2 separate regions of the Homo sapiens genome follow, and region 1 is linked to region 2. The links come from fine-mapping of genetic effects on gene expression. Tissue or cell type: whole blood. Region 2 holds a variant in brackets; the other region holds the start of a gene. All regions are shown on one strand. Distances are from middle to middle.

Region 1 (8,106 bases), 64 kb before region 2:
CATTTTCCTAAAAAGAAACTCCTATTGGAAGTACAGAAACACCAAGAATTCTTTTCTATCATTATCATAGAGTAGGCTCATCTTGAAGTTATTTTTCATATTATATTTGATACTTAAGGAAATTATGAAAAATAAATTGCATTTGTTGGCCCCATAATAATGACATAAACCCACTATGGTATTTTTTTTTTTTTTTTTTTTTTTTTTTGAGACAGAATTTCACTCCGTTGCCCAGGCTGGAGTGCAGTGTCGCGATCTCGGCACACTGCAACCTCCACCTCCTGGGTTCAAGCGATTCTCCTGCCTCAGCCTCCTGAGTAGGTGGGATTACAGGCACCCCCCACCACGCCTGGCTAATTCTTTTTGTATTTTTAGTAGAGACGGGGTTTCATCATGTTGGCCAGGCTAGTCTCAAACTCCTGACCTCAGGTGATCTACCTGCCTTGTCCTCCCAAAGCGCAGGGATTACAGGTGTGAGCCACTGCACCCGGACCCACTATGGTACTCTAAAAGCATTCTTTAGGTTCCTCCTGTATTGGCTTTAGTGGAAAAATTCTTTCCCAGAAGGTTGAAACAAAAGTACTCGTACTATCTGGTATTCAAAATTAAAGAGGTACTATAGGTAAGCTAGAGAGCATAAGCATACATATATGTAGTTCCTCCACCTGAGGGAGGCTCCGTCAATAGATCCTGCTTTGATCATTTATCACAGTGATGGGGAATTTGTGCTGACCTGGCACACTCACCTTACCACACTTGTGATCAACTGCATACGTTAAAAAGATAAATGGTGAGAGCTACAGAGAAGCTACTAGCAACTTGCCCTTCTTTACTTTCTTAGGTTAAAAAAAAAAAAAAAAAAGAGTCAACCAGACTCTAAAGAGTCTCTTCACACTCCTCCATTAAAAGCAACTTTAAGGTCTAACTAGGTCTTGGCACAAAAGTACTTAACAACACATAGGTCCAGATAGTCACTCAACCTCACCTGTCCAAAAGCAGAAGAGAAACGTAATACAGCAAAGCAACGTGCAGTCTGTTTCACAGGCTACATGACTCAGGAAATGAAGAAGGATTTAGATCTTTACAACAGCATTTTCTGTAGCTAGGCTTAACTCCTGGGTCTCTTTACAAGGCTGACTACCACGCTTTCACCTAGCAATCTTAAATCTTCACCTAACACCACAAAAGTAAGTGGTAAAACATTTTCTAGTTCTACTACGGTTAAACCTTCCAACGACTGCAGCAGTTATACTGCAATATCAACTGCTGCAGAAAGTCACAAGGAAAACAAGCTAAAAAATCAGCTATTAACACATCTATGAAAAGAAACATTAATACTACATAAGGAATTAATCTCACCTAAAATAGCTAGCTCTTAAAGTATTTCAACAGCAGCATGCATAATGTAACTATGAAGAATATTTTTATTCCGTTGTTTTGACAAATGAAACAGAAAATGTTTAATATTTCCAACACGTAACCTGCTTGTTTAAAGCAGCTAAACCTAAGGTTAGTTAAATTTTTAGTAGAGAACACCTATGAGCTCTGAAAGAAAAATGTCAGCTCCTTAATCTTTAAGATCATGCATCTACAGGACTGGAAGAAAAAAAGTTACCTTCTTTTTCTCGATGTTTCTAATTTTGTGTTTAAGGCATATGAGTCCATTTTCAATATAGGTCTCATACGCTTGGGAAGGAGATGCAGCAGAACTCAGAGTAGACTGCAGGGGGCTCAAGGCCCGCTGGCTTTCCCCATGCTGACTGTGGTTCACTTGGGGCTTGGCTGACTTCATATTCCCCTCTCTTTCCTCCTCTGAATGGCCTGAAGGTGACTGGTAACCAAAAGGGGATGAAAAGAGTTGCACCATTGAAACAGATGAGGCTGAAGGAGGTGGGGGAAAGTTAAGTATAAAATTAGGACTAGAGGGACACAGCCAGGCAATAACTTCCCTGGAAAGTCTAGACCACTCCCTTAAACTCTTTTCCACAGAAGTGAGCTCGAAACCCAATGATGCTTGAGATACTTGTACTTCCATCCTACTTTTAAAGTAATTAGTGCCGCTAGCCAATAAGGATAGCCTTTACATAGGCAAAATCTCCCAATACGGAGGATGTTTCCAGAAATTCGATTTTCCACATAGGGAGGAAGAACTGCAACGGCTTCAGAGCTCCTTTCTTCTCATGAGGGCAGATCACATTCTAAATAATTCCCATGGCCACGTGATGACACCAAAAGAATAAGCTTTCCACACCGGGACCTAAGGCTGAGCCACTCAAACCTCTTTACATGATCCCTCACCACCAGCCCTAACCTCAATCCTGAACGTTTGGAAGAAAATCCAAACTCACAACATTCTTTTATAGCTCTAAGTGAACCAGCAGCTTCTTGAACAAGAATGCTAACTTCCCCGATTGCTCTGGGGCCTACAAGGCAATCCATCACTACTGGACATTTGCAGACAGGTACTCTCTCAACCTGCAGGAACCCCGCGTTTATTCTCAGTTGTTTGGTTTAGACTAGCCCAAAACCGCTTACACCCAACCAGTTTAAGAGCTCATTCTAGCGAGCCCTTCCCGTGCCCTAATCAGTGGCCCTTGCGCACTTACGTATCCGTCTCTCGACCTCCAAGCACCCGAGGTATCCCTTTCTCCCCCCTTAGGAGCATCCCCAAACCAAGGACAGAACAGGCCCCATGCACGCCAGCGCGCACCCCCTCAAGTCTCCGGGGGAGCCTGAGCGAAGAGCACCTCTCCCGAGCGGCCACGGAGAGCCCTGCAGGCACCGACCCCCACCCTTCCCACAGCCGCCCCGGGTACGCAGAAGCCGCTTCTGCAAGGCCCCGGGGGAGGCTGACCTGCGGAAAACGCACCGACCGCGGCCCTCGGGAGCCCCGCCCCGCCCCGGGGATGCCAAGCCGCCCCTCCACCTCGCAGCGGCGCCGGCCGCCCAGACCTGCCCACCCTCGCCGGGTCAGCCGCCTCCCTCCGCCGCGCCGACCGAGGCCGCCGCAGCCCGACTTCACCTCCCCAGGCAGCCGAGGCCGCCGCTGCCGCAGCCCGGGCCCGCCTTCCAAAGCCTGGGGGAGGCAGGAGCGCTGCGGAGGTGGACCGGCGCCACCCCGCACTCGCGTCTCCTCCTCCTGTCTCCTCCCTCTCCCCTCCCGGTCCTCGCCCGCGGCCTCTGCGGCGCCAGAGACCCAGCCGACTCAGCCGCTCGCGCCCAGGCCCGCCCACCGCGCCGCGCGTGGCTTTTGTAGGCCGCGCCCCGCCCCGGCCCGCTCCGCCCTCGGCCGCCCCGCCACCGCCTCCTTCCGGTGCTCCTTCCCGGCTGCAGCTGGCCGCCAGCGCTTGTCGGGTGTTAGTTCCGGGCCCAGCTTGGGCTGGTGGTAGGTCGGGAGAGGGCGCGGTCTCCCAGCCTTTGCGCAGATTGCGGGGCACCAGGTGGGGCCGAGGCGACGCCGAACGCCGGCAGGCCGGAAACCGCGCAGCCCCGCTGGACCTCGCTGATTGCCGGCGGCACCGGTGGTTTCGCGACCTTGAACAGGTGACTCCAATAGCTCCAGGAGGGCAGCGAGCCCTTCGCGGAACTACCAGATAAGCCATGCTTGAGGCTGTCGTAGCCTAGTGGGTAGTCGTGAAATGCAGATGCGCCTTTGCCCCTCAGATAGCATCTTTCATAGTAGGATGGGGAAAAAACACCGTTTCCTTACCGGGGAATCAGCCTGTAAGAGCAGAATGCCCCAAATCAGCATCGCCATAAAAACGGAGTAGGTGACTTCGCAACCTGCAATAATAGGATTGAGTTTATTCAAGCCGTATTATTTGTTCATGTGACACACATTAATTGACTGGCACGCAGAGAAAGCTGTAAAAAATCTTTGTAAGGTTACATAAAATTAAGAGAAAAGTCTGGAAATATGTAAAAGTTTATTGAGGAAAGGAAGGTGTTTCTGATACCAAATAAGAAACACACACACACACTCAGCAATACTTTGCCCCAACATGTGTTTACTTATTACACCAAGTGGAGTTTTTTAGGTCCTGATTGTCCCTGACGCTCTGATAAAAAATATTGAGACTAGCAAAAGAACAGAAAATTCAGAAGAAGAATCAAGGAAACAAAGGTCTAGTTTTAAAAGCCTTGGTCAACTTCACACAAATTAATTTTAACATTACTTAATACATTTTTTTGGCATCTATTATCCGTGTTCTTTTCGGTCCCTGGTGACATAATGTACCCTAATGTTGCATTTTAACTTTGAATCTCTGAATCCCATATGTGTTCTTCAGGGTCAGAGAAATACTAGATTTTCCCTTTTTCTCATTGTTTATAAACAGAGAAACGCAGAAGATGCTGAACATGAGGAGAGGAAGGCTATGCCTTCACCTTTGGTAACACAAAAAACAGTGGCCATAAGAAAAAATGTGAAGGACACACTGTTGGATCAATGAGTTGACACAAAGTTACAGCACAGCCTGAGTTGTAGTCCGAGCTAATGATGAACCTAAAAATGGTATTTCAGTCAGATTAATCATGAAATGTTTGCCCCCTGCCGGCGCAGTGGCTCAAGCCTGTGATCCCAGCACTTTGGGAGGCCGAGGCGGGGTGGATCACCTGAGGTCGGGAGTTCGAGGCCAGGCTGGCCAGCGTGGTGAATATCCATCTCTACTAAAAATACAAAAATTAGCCGAGCATGGCGGCATGTGCCTGTAATCATGGCTACTCAGAGGCTAAGGCAGGAGAATCGCTTGAAACCCGGAGACGGACGCTGCAGTGAGCCGAGATTGTGCCGCTGCACTCCAGCCTGGGTGACAGAGCAAGACTCTATCTCAAAAAAAGAAAGAAAGAAAGAAATGTTTGCCTTCTAATCGGTCAGGCAAAAAGGAGGCCGTAAATTTTAAATTTTCTACTAAATGGATATTCTTCTAAATGAATAAATCCATACAGATTTACTTCTCAGGAAGGATTATAAAAATGCATCACGAAAGAATGCAAAAGCAAAAATAATTGAATTTCAAGTCCAGTAGGGTACAGTCTGTATACGTATGGCGTGACATTTGTAGGAGAACATACCACAGTAGATACTCTTGAAGCAATGTCTTCTGAACAAGTTAAAAAGATGATTCAGATAAAAGCTTTTCTGCTAGAGGAGATCTTTAAAGTCAGTAAGTCTGGCTTACTTTGAAAGCACATGTCCCCAAAACTTTTATTTGTCAGGAGTTTAGTTTATTTTACCCTCTCCCACTCCCTATTTTCTGTAAGACCGTGACTTTTCTTGCCAACTGTGAGGCAGTATCTGTGGCATGCCACCTCCAAGCTTAGCAAGGAATAACTATATTGGAAATATGATAAAAAGTGTTGTCTCGAATCATTGATAGAAGAATATATTCATTTATTCATTCAACAGATGTTTACTTAGCACTTGCTATGTAGTAGGTGATAAGGCATAATGGTGACTGAGACAATATAGCTTCTGCCTTCGTGGAGCTAAGTGGGAATTCAGTAAAAGCTATAGATGTAAATGGCAAAAACAACCAAATCAAAAAACCCGAAGACAAAAATACTAAAGACTTTAATAATGGATGGTTTGATTTCTACAAAAACAGCCAGACTTTACGTCCTTTGAAAATGTGAAGGTGTTAAATATGCACTGTCTGACAAATGTTCAATTGCTGCAGGGATGGTTATGCTGTAGTCACTTAAAATTAATATAGCTTCATATTGTTGAAACTGGAAAGATAAATCCACCAAAGGATGTGAAACCTGGTAGCGTGTTAGTAGAGATATGAGAAATTATCTTAGACACATGGTTGTGGGTGATAGAAGTCTGTTTCTTATTGGCTCTACGAGACTTTGTGGAGAATTGCCACCAAGAGACAGAGAGAGAGGGAGAAAGTCACCAAGAAAAATAATAAGAAGGCTAAGAAAGAAAAAGACAGGAACAATAACATAAGGTTGTTAAAAAGATAGTACTTTTGGCCGGGTGTGGTGGCTTAACGCCTGTAATCCCAGCACTTTGGGAAACCAAGGCAGGCAGATCACCTGAAATCAGGAGTTCAAGACCAGCTTGGCCAACATGGCGAAACCCCATCTGTACTAAAAATACAAAAATCAGCCGGGCATGGTGGTGCGCCCCTGTAATCGCAGCTACTTGGGACACTAAGACAGAAGAATCGCTTGAACCCAGGAGGAGAAGGTTGCAGTGAGCCAAGATTGCGCCACTGCACTCCAGCCTGGATGACAAGAGCGAAACTCTGTCTCAAAAAAAAAAAAAAAAAAAAAATATATATATATATATACAGTACTTTCACATACTTGCTGATTCATAGAGTGTCTATTCAAATATTTGAGAAACTTTTTATGAAAGTAAAGAACTGAGAAATATAGACCTCAGGTAGGAAAAAAAACTTGCCATAATAGTTTAGGGTATTTTTAGAGAAATATCTAGTTTGTAAGATTAATAATTTGGTAGGCTTATTTTTTCATAAAATTATACATTCCTATTGGTTTTGTTGATACTGTTTTTCTGATATTGAAGTTAATGCATTAATAGTGCTCCACCATTAAGTACCTTTGAAATAAAAGTTCTTTAGAGGAGGAGTAATCAGTGTAGAACTTATGAATGTGTGTCATTAAATCAATAATATCAAGCCCATAAAAATATGATTTCTGTCCAACTTTGAAGTATTATAAAGTGTCAACAGCATGGGCTTTGGAGCCAGACACACATGGATTGGATTCTTGTTCCTGCCCCTTACTAGCTGAATGATCTTGGGCAAGTGACTGAAATTCTGTGGGCTTCAGTTTTTTCAGCTGTAAAACTGCTGATAATAAAACAAACATAATATTACCTATTAACAGCATTGTTAAGGATTTCATTTCGTTTCTGTAAAAGCATCTGACTAGAGACTAGGCCATGAAAACATATCCTCCACTGAGATACCTGTATTTGCTGCTTTTGCCATAATACGAAGCCCAGCATTTCTCCTAGTAGCCAAGGAGAACTAGAGAACTGTGGAATTTATGGCTAAGGAATCCCACCCCCCCGCCCTTATTTGAAAGACAAGGTATATAAAGCTGGTGGACATTTGTGAGTTTTCCAAGACCTAAAGAATCTAGGTCTTCTGCCCTCTAATGCAACATGCACTCCAGGCCGCTTCATCCCTTTCCCTTGCTGCTTCCATGGAGTAAATAAAGTATAGAAATAGGCAATTAAACTTGAAGATTGAAACCAAAAAGAATAAGCAATTCAGTGTTACAGTGTCTTCAAAGGAATTCATTCAGAAAGACATTTTAAAATATTCATATCTTTTGATCCAGTAGCCTTTATTTTAGGAATCTCCCCTATCAAAATAATCAGAGATGCAAACAATCACTTATTTATGAAAATGCTAGGCACCACATTTTTTTAAGTGGTGGGAAATTGTAAACAACAACCTAGACACTCAACAATAGAGAAATGGCTAAATAATGTGACTCTAAGCCATGAATTTTAATTCAAGTAGTACAAATCATCTTTTCAAAGAATATTCAATGACATGATATTATATGAAGTGAAAAAAGGGCAGGATAAAACACGGTATAAAACATTTAGTAAGATTGTGACTTTGTAAAATATTTCATTTTAAATATGCATGGAAAAGGCTGAAAGATGTTTTCACTTTATTTTTATAGCATATGTTTAGTTTTTATACCAAACCAGAAAAAGTATTTTCCCAAAAACATGAAAGCTGCCCCCTCCACCGATTACCATTATTAACTTTTTGCTTATATTCTTCTAGACTTATTTCCAAGAAAATATCTGTATAATTTTTTACAAAAATGGGAATGTACTAAACATTTTGCAATTCTGCTATTTTGACTTAAAATATAATGAGCATCTTTTTATTAAAATAAACTTGGTGTGGTGGCTCACGCCTGTAATCCCAGCACTTTGGGAGGCTGAAGCGCGCGGATCATGACATCAGGAGATCGAGACCATCCTGGCCAACAGGTGAAACCCCGTCTCTACTAAAAATACAAAAAATTAGCCGAGTGTGGTGGCGGGTACCTGCAGTCCCAGCTACTTGGGAGGCTGAGGCAGGAGAATGGCGTGAACCCGGGAGG
Region 2 (8,106 bases):
TGTCTAAGGACTAAGTCTTGAATATTTATCCCATATTTTCTTCTAAAAGTTTTATAGTTTTACATTTTATATTTAAATCTGTGGTCCATTTGAATTGATTTTTATATAAGGTAGGAGCTTTAGGTTGCGGTTCAATGTTTTGCACATGACAGTTCAATTGTTCCAATAGCACCTATTGAAAGAGTGTCTTTGTTTACTGGGTTGCCTTTGCACCTCTGTCAGAAGTCAATTGGCTGTATTTGTGTAGACCTATTTCTAGACTCTCTGTATTCTTCTTTTTACCTTTTATCTTTGCATGTAAATTATAGAATCATAGAATCATCTTGTCTCTATAAAATATCCTGTGCTGGGATTTTGATGGAGTTGCATTAAAGGTATAGATCAATTTGGGAAGAATTAAAATCTTTACTGTGTTGGGTCTTCCAATCCATGAATCCATATACTCTTGATTTATTTAGAACTTCTTTGATTTTGTTTACAGCATTGTGTAAGTTTTCAGCACACAGATCCTATATATACCTAGAAGTTTTATGTTTCAGAGATATTATAGGTGCAATTATTTCAAAATTTTTGGTTTTATTTATTGCTAGTGTTTAGAAATTCAGCTGTGTGTTGTGTGTTGACCTTGTATTACTTTTAGGGTGTGTGTATGTGTGTGTGTGTGTGCATTCCTTGGAATTTTCTATGTAGAAATCATCTTGCTTATTAATAAGAATGATTTCTTTCCCCCAAGGAAGTCATTTTTCCATCCAAGGAGTCACTCTGGTTCTCTCTCCATGTCTGTCTATACAGTGCTCACCATTCTGGGAAGAAGAAAGGTCCCTTATCTAGAGCTCCACTCATCTTTGGGCCTTACGGGTGTGTGTGTTTTGGTAGAGGGAGTGTTCAAGTATCTCCCCAACAATGTGGAGACCAGGTGTGTGTGGTGGCTCACACCTGTAATCCCAGCACTTTGGGAGGCCAAGATGGGAGGAATACTTGAGCCAAGAGTTGGAGACCAACCTAAGCAAAATAGTGAAACCCAGTATCTGTAAAAATACAAACATTAGCTGGGTGTGATGACGTGCTTCTCTAGTCCCAGCTACTTGTGGGAGGCTGAGTTGACAGGATCCATTGATCCCAGGAAGTCAAGGCTGCAGTGAGCCATGATTGTGCCACTGCACTCCAGCCTAGGCAACAAAGTGAGACCTTGTCTCAAAAAACAAAAAACCAATACGGAGATCTAGCAGAAACGCATTTAACTGTTATATTGGTATCTGATGCAATAAAGCAATTTTTCATTGCTTTGAGATAGAAATAAAGTTAAAACCAAAAGTGGCCTCACAAAAAAACTGTGCAAATATCTGTATGTAGAACTCTCTCTGACTTGTCCCTCTCACCAGGCTACAAGGAGAAGGGAGAGCTGGGAGCTGGGAGGGGAGCAGGAAGAGGGAGATCTGTGTAGGGAGGGGGAAGGGTGCCCATCCGTGACAATTGTAGGACATGTCTTTCTTCAAAATGTGGCTGCTGGAGAACCTAGACTCTGGCAACTGCGAGCTGCCCTGTGAGTCAGGTTTGGGCTTCCCCGCCTGCCTTCAGACAGGACCTGTGTCATGTGGCAGCTGGATAGCATGAGTGGAAGGACATCAGCAGAGTGGGGAACTGGGTGGTAGAGACCCTCACACCTGCCAGGAAGGTCAATGTGACTGCGAAAACACCACCAGATTGAAAATCTTCCTATATAGACCCTTGATATATCAGCCACTCCACCCCACTGGTCACTGTGGATGGGTGAACTAAACATGTCTTTCCACAAAATGGTGAGACAGCCAAGTAAAAAGTGGTCCCTGGAGAACCTCCGACTGGCCTGTGCACTGGGAGGATGGGGCAGGGCCTCAGGAAGTTCGTGCTGTTTGTAGGGGGGAGGAGCCTGGCCTCTCCTGTTCCTGGGTGGTGACCTGGAATTCAATCTGTGAGATGGGGGCCTTTTAACAGGAACCCCTTTAGCTTTGCTGAGAATCTTTTTTCTTTTTGCCCAATAAATTCTGTAACCACTCACCCTTCAAAGTGTCTGCATGCCTAATCTTTCCTGGTTGTGCGATGAGAACCTGTTTTTTTCTACAACAATGAGAAGACACAGAAGGAGCCAAAATATGCCCTTTTCTTGCCCCTATTCTCCCCACAGTCCTCTCTCTGCTGACCTTTACCCCAGAACCAGGTCTTCTTTAAAAAGCAGAATTGGCCCAGACTCTATCAGCAAGTTTTTGATTGTCCTGGGGTTTAAAGAGGGCTTCTGGGAGCCAGACAACCCTTTTCTTGGTCTCTTTGCTAAACTGATTCTAACTCCTAGAGAATGGCATTTCAATTATTCTAGGCCTGTAGGCATGGAGATACCATCATCCTCCTTTGGAACATTTATGATAATGGCTTGATGGTGCTGAAAACCCCAATTACCAGGGTTCTAGTCTATCCCTAACCTAAATTCTTATTCTATATTTTTGCCTTTAGGAGTGCTGAGTGTGCATCGTTCAGCCTCTATAAAGCAACCATCACCCTTTTGATGATTCCAAACTCCTCATTTTCAGAGTGTTCTTATTTCTCAGAAAGATTTGAACTTGGGCATGGAAAGGTCTGCTTCTCCTGTGCTGGCTCTGCTGTCTTCAGCTGGAGGGTCAGGAGACATTCTGGATGGAGAACGGCTGTCAGGGAGTGATAGGCAGCTTCACTCCAGACAAGTACCTGGAATTTGGAACCAGGGAAACGGGAGGATAAGAGACATCCTCTTGTTCTTTGACCTGATTCCCCAGTCAGCGGGAAGCCCACTGGGGGCTATAACTAACAGCTTCTGAATAGCAGGGAAATTTTCACTAATCCAAGTCAAAACCTAGAAAAAAGCCTCCTCTTTTTATCTCAAAACCATGAAAATCTTCTAGGAACAGGCAGAAAACAAACAGCTGGAGTTTTTTGTTTTTGTTTTTGTTTTTTTTTTTGCTTCTTGTGGCCATGCACATGAAGAATTACTAAAAGATCAAGATGTAGAAATAAAAGAGGCAGGGCTGCTCAGAGGACAAATAAAAATTAAGTTGATCAAATCAAAGACCTTAAGTTGTGCTTCTTCAAGTCCTTTGGTTCCTCAGCCACTGGCTGTTTTCTCCTGCCATGCAGGGGTTTTCAGGAGGGCTACAGGAGATTTGGCAATTATGTTTCACAAGGTCATAGGGAAAATTCCATTTTAGGTGGAGAGTAGACATCACCAAGCACATCATGGATGTGGTTCATTGATGTCACTATTCATTGAACTAATCTATCCTGATGATAGGCATCGTACATCAGTCTTAGACTAAATGACCAGCAGGTCAGGCTAGGAAAGATCCACTGCCCTAGATGGGGAACTCCCATCTATACCTCCTTCCCTCACAGCAGCACTGGGCAAGGTGTCCTTGTCACAGCTGACATCTTCCTTGTAGGGTGCAGGGAGGAAGGCTACTCTGGCCAGTGTTGACATTAGACAAGAAGGGAGCCTGTGGGTATGAGTGGGAAAGGTGAGGGGATCATAA[C/T]TGGCAGGACCCTGGGAGTTGTGGGCAGGAGCCCACCCCATAGCCCATGCCACTGTCCAGTGAGACCTGGGAATGAAAAATTCAAAAGAGAAGGCAGCAGAAAACTTTTGAGAGAGAGAAAGATAGAGAGAGAGAGAGAGAGAGAGAAAGAGAGAGAGAGTGTGTGTGTGTTGGGTCTGTCAAAACTCCAAATTTCCATCTAGGGGCCAAATATACAGCAAGAACCAGTTGTCAGTTCAAAAGGGCCCCCATCACCATCATAACTAGAATCTTAGCAGCGCAGTGGTAGAAACCTTGGGAAACTAGAAAAAGGATGTTACCTAAAGTCAATTTCTAGAAGACCTTTATGGCAATGAAAAGGAACCAAGAAAATCTAGATGGGCTGAACTTGGAGAACCACAAAGACTCTTGTTTCTAGACTCTAGAAACAGTTAATCTGGGAGTTACTGACACTTTCTCCACTTTTTCATGAATCAGTCCATGAAAGCACAACTCATCGTCATTGAGGAATGGATGATGGTCTATTTTAATTTCTAGCTTGCTGATACAAGTGCCAAGAGGGGCTGAACACTGGGACTACAAGAGATTCAATGAGCCAATTCAGGGTGAATAGTTGGGTCCTATTTTCCCCAAAGCAGTTGCTTTTCAACCATCATTGTCAAAATACATTTGAAGGACACAACACCATAGGGCAATGTTCTAGGGAGATGCAAACTAGCATAAGAGTTGCCCCCACAAAATTTGTTTCCACCACTGTGAGCTCCTGCTTGCTGCCTCCTCCCTTGTCCTGGTCCCCTCCATGGCAGCTGGAGGAAAGCCTGGTCTAAAGTGAGGAAAGGATAGAGAAATGAGCATGACAGAGTTGATTTTTGGATGAACAATGGTTTCACCCAGTTTCCCTTCTTGAGCCCCTGATGTCTGCGTTTGAGTAGAGCAGAGGCTTGGAGTGAGGAGGCCCCTCCCTCCAGCCAGCCTGAGACTACTTCCATACTCTCAGTCAGTGCACATTTTCCCCAGGAAACCAATGACAGAAGTCCATGCTGTGGCAATAAAGAGAAGGTCAGCCACCTCTTCTGTGGAGGATTCTGATGCCAGCTCAGGGACACAGAGGCTGGTCAGAATGCCTCCCTACACCTCACAGTGAAGCATTGTTCTTGGAGAAGTATGAAGCCAAAGAACCCAAAACGAGTGGATAGAGTGAAGACAAGAATAAAACACGTCAGGCAGGGCATGGTGGCTCATGTCTGTAATCCCAGCACTTTGGGAGGCCAAGATAGGCAGATCACCTGAGGTCAGGAGTTTGAGATCAGCCTGGTCAACATGGTGAAACCCAGTCTCTACTAAAAATACAAAAATTAGCTGGGCATGGTCGTGGGCACCTGTAATCCCAGCTGCTCGGGAGGCTGAGGCAGGAGAATCTCTTGAACCTGGGAGGTGGAGGTTGCAGTGAACCAAGATCACGCCATTGCACTCCAGCCTGGGCAACAAGAGTGAAACTCCATCTCAAAAAACAACAGAAAGAATAAAACAGGTCTTGGTTTCACAAAGTAAGACGTGGTACAAATATACCTATCACATGATTTTAGAAAAATTGAGGGAAATGGAAGCAAACACAAGATATTCAAAACAGCAATGTCCTAACTTGTTTGCAGATACCAGAATAATGACTTACAGATACCAGAATAATGAGGGAGAAGGAAAGGGAAAAATCAGTTGGGGAATACTTGGACTGCAAAAGCAGCCTGCCTCAAAAGTCAGAGCAACAGGAAAACACACTCACACACACACACACACACACACACACAAAACAAACAAACAAAAACAAACATGGGTAAAACCTCAGGCTGCACATGCACACAGATAAGCAGACAGGGTCCTGCAGAGAAGCCCATTGTTCTTTGTATAATTAGCAAACTCCCAGGAAAAAGTTTCTTCCCCTTTTCAGGCATATACACGGTGGGCTCCACAGAAACTGGCACAGGGAGGAGGGGGACTTACCTAAAACAAACCCACAGTTATATAAATAAGAGAAGTGGCGCTTTGTGCCTGCCTAAAGACATACCTACAGCTGCATAAGGGGAATTGCACGGACAGCTTTACTGGTAAAAAGTTACTAAAACAGTTACAGGGAGGAGAGCAGTTGCTTATAGAAGTTTACTGCAATCAGCTGCAACCTGGCAATCCACTCGGACTCCCCTCTGCTGCGGAGAGCTTTCTTCTTTAGCTTATTAAACTTTTGCTCCAACCTCATCCTTGTATCCACATTCCTTAACCTTCTTGGATGTAGGACAAAGAACCCTGGGTACTAGTTCAAACAATGAGAAACTGCTACAATAAGATGCATCAGTGAGACTGCAACAATACCTTTGCTCATCATACAAATTAAAAGAAAAATCATTCCCTTTCCCTCAATCACATAGAGAAAAGCACTTAAGTGTTCAGAAGTAACCCTTGTCACACTCCAAATACAAAATGATTTACATGCAGCAAATTACACAAGAAGTGAATTAAAATATAATCATTATATTCACTTGGCACAATTGTAACTCCATTAAAAAAAATTTGAAAAATACTGAAACTGACCTGAATTTAAGTTTCTTCAACAGAAACATTAGCAAAGTAATAAAAAATTACATGAGATGTATCGAAGCAAAATGCCTTCTTGAGTTTTTCCCTTAAATTTCTCTGTGTTTTTTTAAAATATAGTTTTAATGCCAAGGGAACTCACAACTATATTTTAAAATGAATATTATTGCATTGTTTTTGCATTATCTTGTGGGACAGAAATGCAAAGAGTTATGGATTACCACCTTAGAAGTAGAGACAGTGGTCTGTTTTTGTATTCAAACGGTCCCAGATTTAGATCTCCGCACAATTAAACCAGAATAGGGGGATTGTGTACTCACAGGTGCCATGGGCACACGATATGGGTGCATACACATTTGGACATATGTACACAACCTACTACATACACACATGTGTAACACACACAAAGACTCTCTCACCCATGCTCCTCCCTCCCACACCTACCTATACACCCAGGGTAAAATGGAACCCAACTCAATTACCTATATTGTGCAAGATATATCAAGTGCATTGCCAATTACCTTTACATTAGAAAACTAAACCAAGCCAGGAAAAAAAAAAAGGATTACTACTTAAGGGATTTATAACAAATTATTGGGCATACACAATACTTAGTATAATTCTCCAACAAAGGCTTCTATTGAACCCTACCTGGGTAAAGGAAACCACAACCATTTAAATAATACAAGAAAACCAAACCCGAGTTACACTGGCAAAAGTGAAAACAAAGTGGGTGGCTACAGGACTTTGTAAACACTCTCCTTCCTCTCCTCTCCTCTGGGAAAATAAAAACCAAAAAAAAAAAAAAAAAAAAAAAAAGCCCAAAACAAATCAAAAAATGAAAACTGCAAGAAAAGTGTCAAACCACAAAACAAAAGAGCGCTCCACAGAAGCTCAGCACATCTTCATTTGGTGGGCGCTGGTGCCCTTTCCCTGTGGGCGGCGCCAGCTCCTTTCTCGGCTGCCTGCCCAGCTGCTGGGCTGGAGCTCCGCGTGCTGGGTGTAGGTCAAGTGATCCCGTCGCGGGCGGGCGGAGGTGGCCGGGCAGCCGCCGCTGTGCCCGGGTCTGGGGTGAGCTGCACTGCTGCCCTGGGCCCCGGCTCCCACGCCTGTTTCCCGGAGCTCCGCGGCTCCGGCTGCTTCGCCCTCCCTCTGTGGGCTGGGCTGGGGTCCTCGCGAGAAGTCCTGCCCCGCTCCCTTCTCCAAATCCACAGGCCCTGTTTCTCTGGAGACAGGGAGGCTCATACAGGATATGTGCAAATGCTTTTATTACAAGCTGAGTTGAAAGACACCCGTTTGCTCTCGGGTCCTTTTGGTGAGCGCCGCAGGAAGCCGGGCTCCTCTCTCCCCAGAGGCGGCCGCAGGTTCGCGGCGCAGGGCCTGCAGTGCCAGGAGCAGGCAGGGGCCTCTGCCCTCCCCTTCGTCCCTGATCTCCCGCCTCCTCCTCACCCGCCGTCTCTGCGAACTCACCCTGGGCTGCGGCCTTTCTTCCCTCAAAGCAGGCCCTTTACACACCGGACTCCGCGTCTTGTCCCAATACAAATACATGAAAATGCGGTTCCTCAGGTGGCGAGAACAGTGAGCACTTCTGAAGCAAGCCCATTAGGAACATTGAAGTAAATCTGAAGCCTAACGCCCCGGCGCCCTGACTACCGGCTGCCGAGCGGACTCTGCGGTCCCGCAGCTTCCCTGCACTCGCGGCCCTGGACGCGCATCTCCCAGGCTTTTCTGCGCTGGCCCCTGCCGGCATTGGCCAGGTCCCCGCAGTTCACTAAAGGCAAGAGGGCCTCTGCAGGGCTCCGCGGGGCGCCCCGCTGAGGACGCTGTGGGCCTCGCACTCCACCTCGTCTCCTGTGCTGTCACAGGCGGAGGCCAGCTTCTGGGTTGAGACCTCTGTGAACTCCGGGTCTTCAGCAAATTGCCCCAGTCCTGAAATCAAAACCTAGGGGGCGGGGTTGGAGGCCATGAAGAATCAAAGGAACAT

What was found. PIP is the estimated chance that this variant, and not a neighbour inherited with it, causes the effect.
Region 1: CAPRIN2 starts here. The variant in region 2 is fine-mapped to the expression of CAPRIN2 in whole blood (TOPMed, PIP 0.93).

The regions. Positions count from the first base shown.
Region 1 is chr12:30,751,729-30,759,834 of GRCh38, forward strand. CAPRIN2 (caprin family member 2) reads right to left here and starts at 3,223. Exons shown (of 19, transcript NM_001385503.1): 1 at 3,023-3,223; 2 at 1,616-1,831. The coding sequence starts at 1,792. LOC645485 (a long non-coding RNA gene) reads left to right here and starts at 3,346. Exons shown (of 2, transcript NR_135046.1): 1 at 3,346-3,543. RefSeq lists enhancers at 2,597-2,676, 2,680-2,849 and silencers at 2,777-3,456, 4,548-4,751.
Region 2 is chr12:30,815,390-30,823,495 of GRCh38, forward strand. No RefSeq gene overlaps it. Among named protein-coding and RNA genes, the nearest start is that of LINC00941, 24 kb to the left of the region's middle. The variant C/T (reference allele first, on the strand shown) is at 3,537.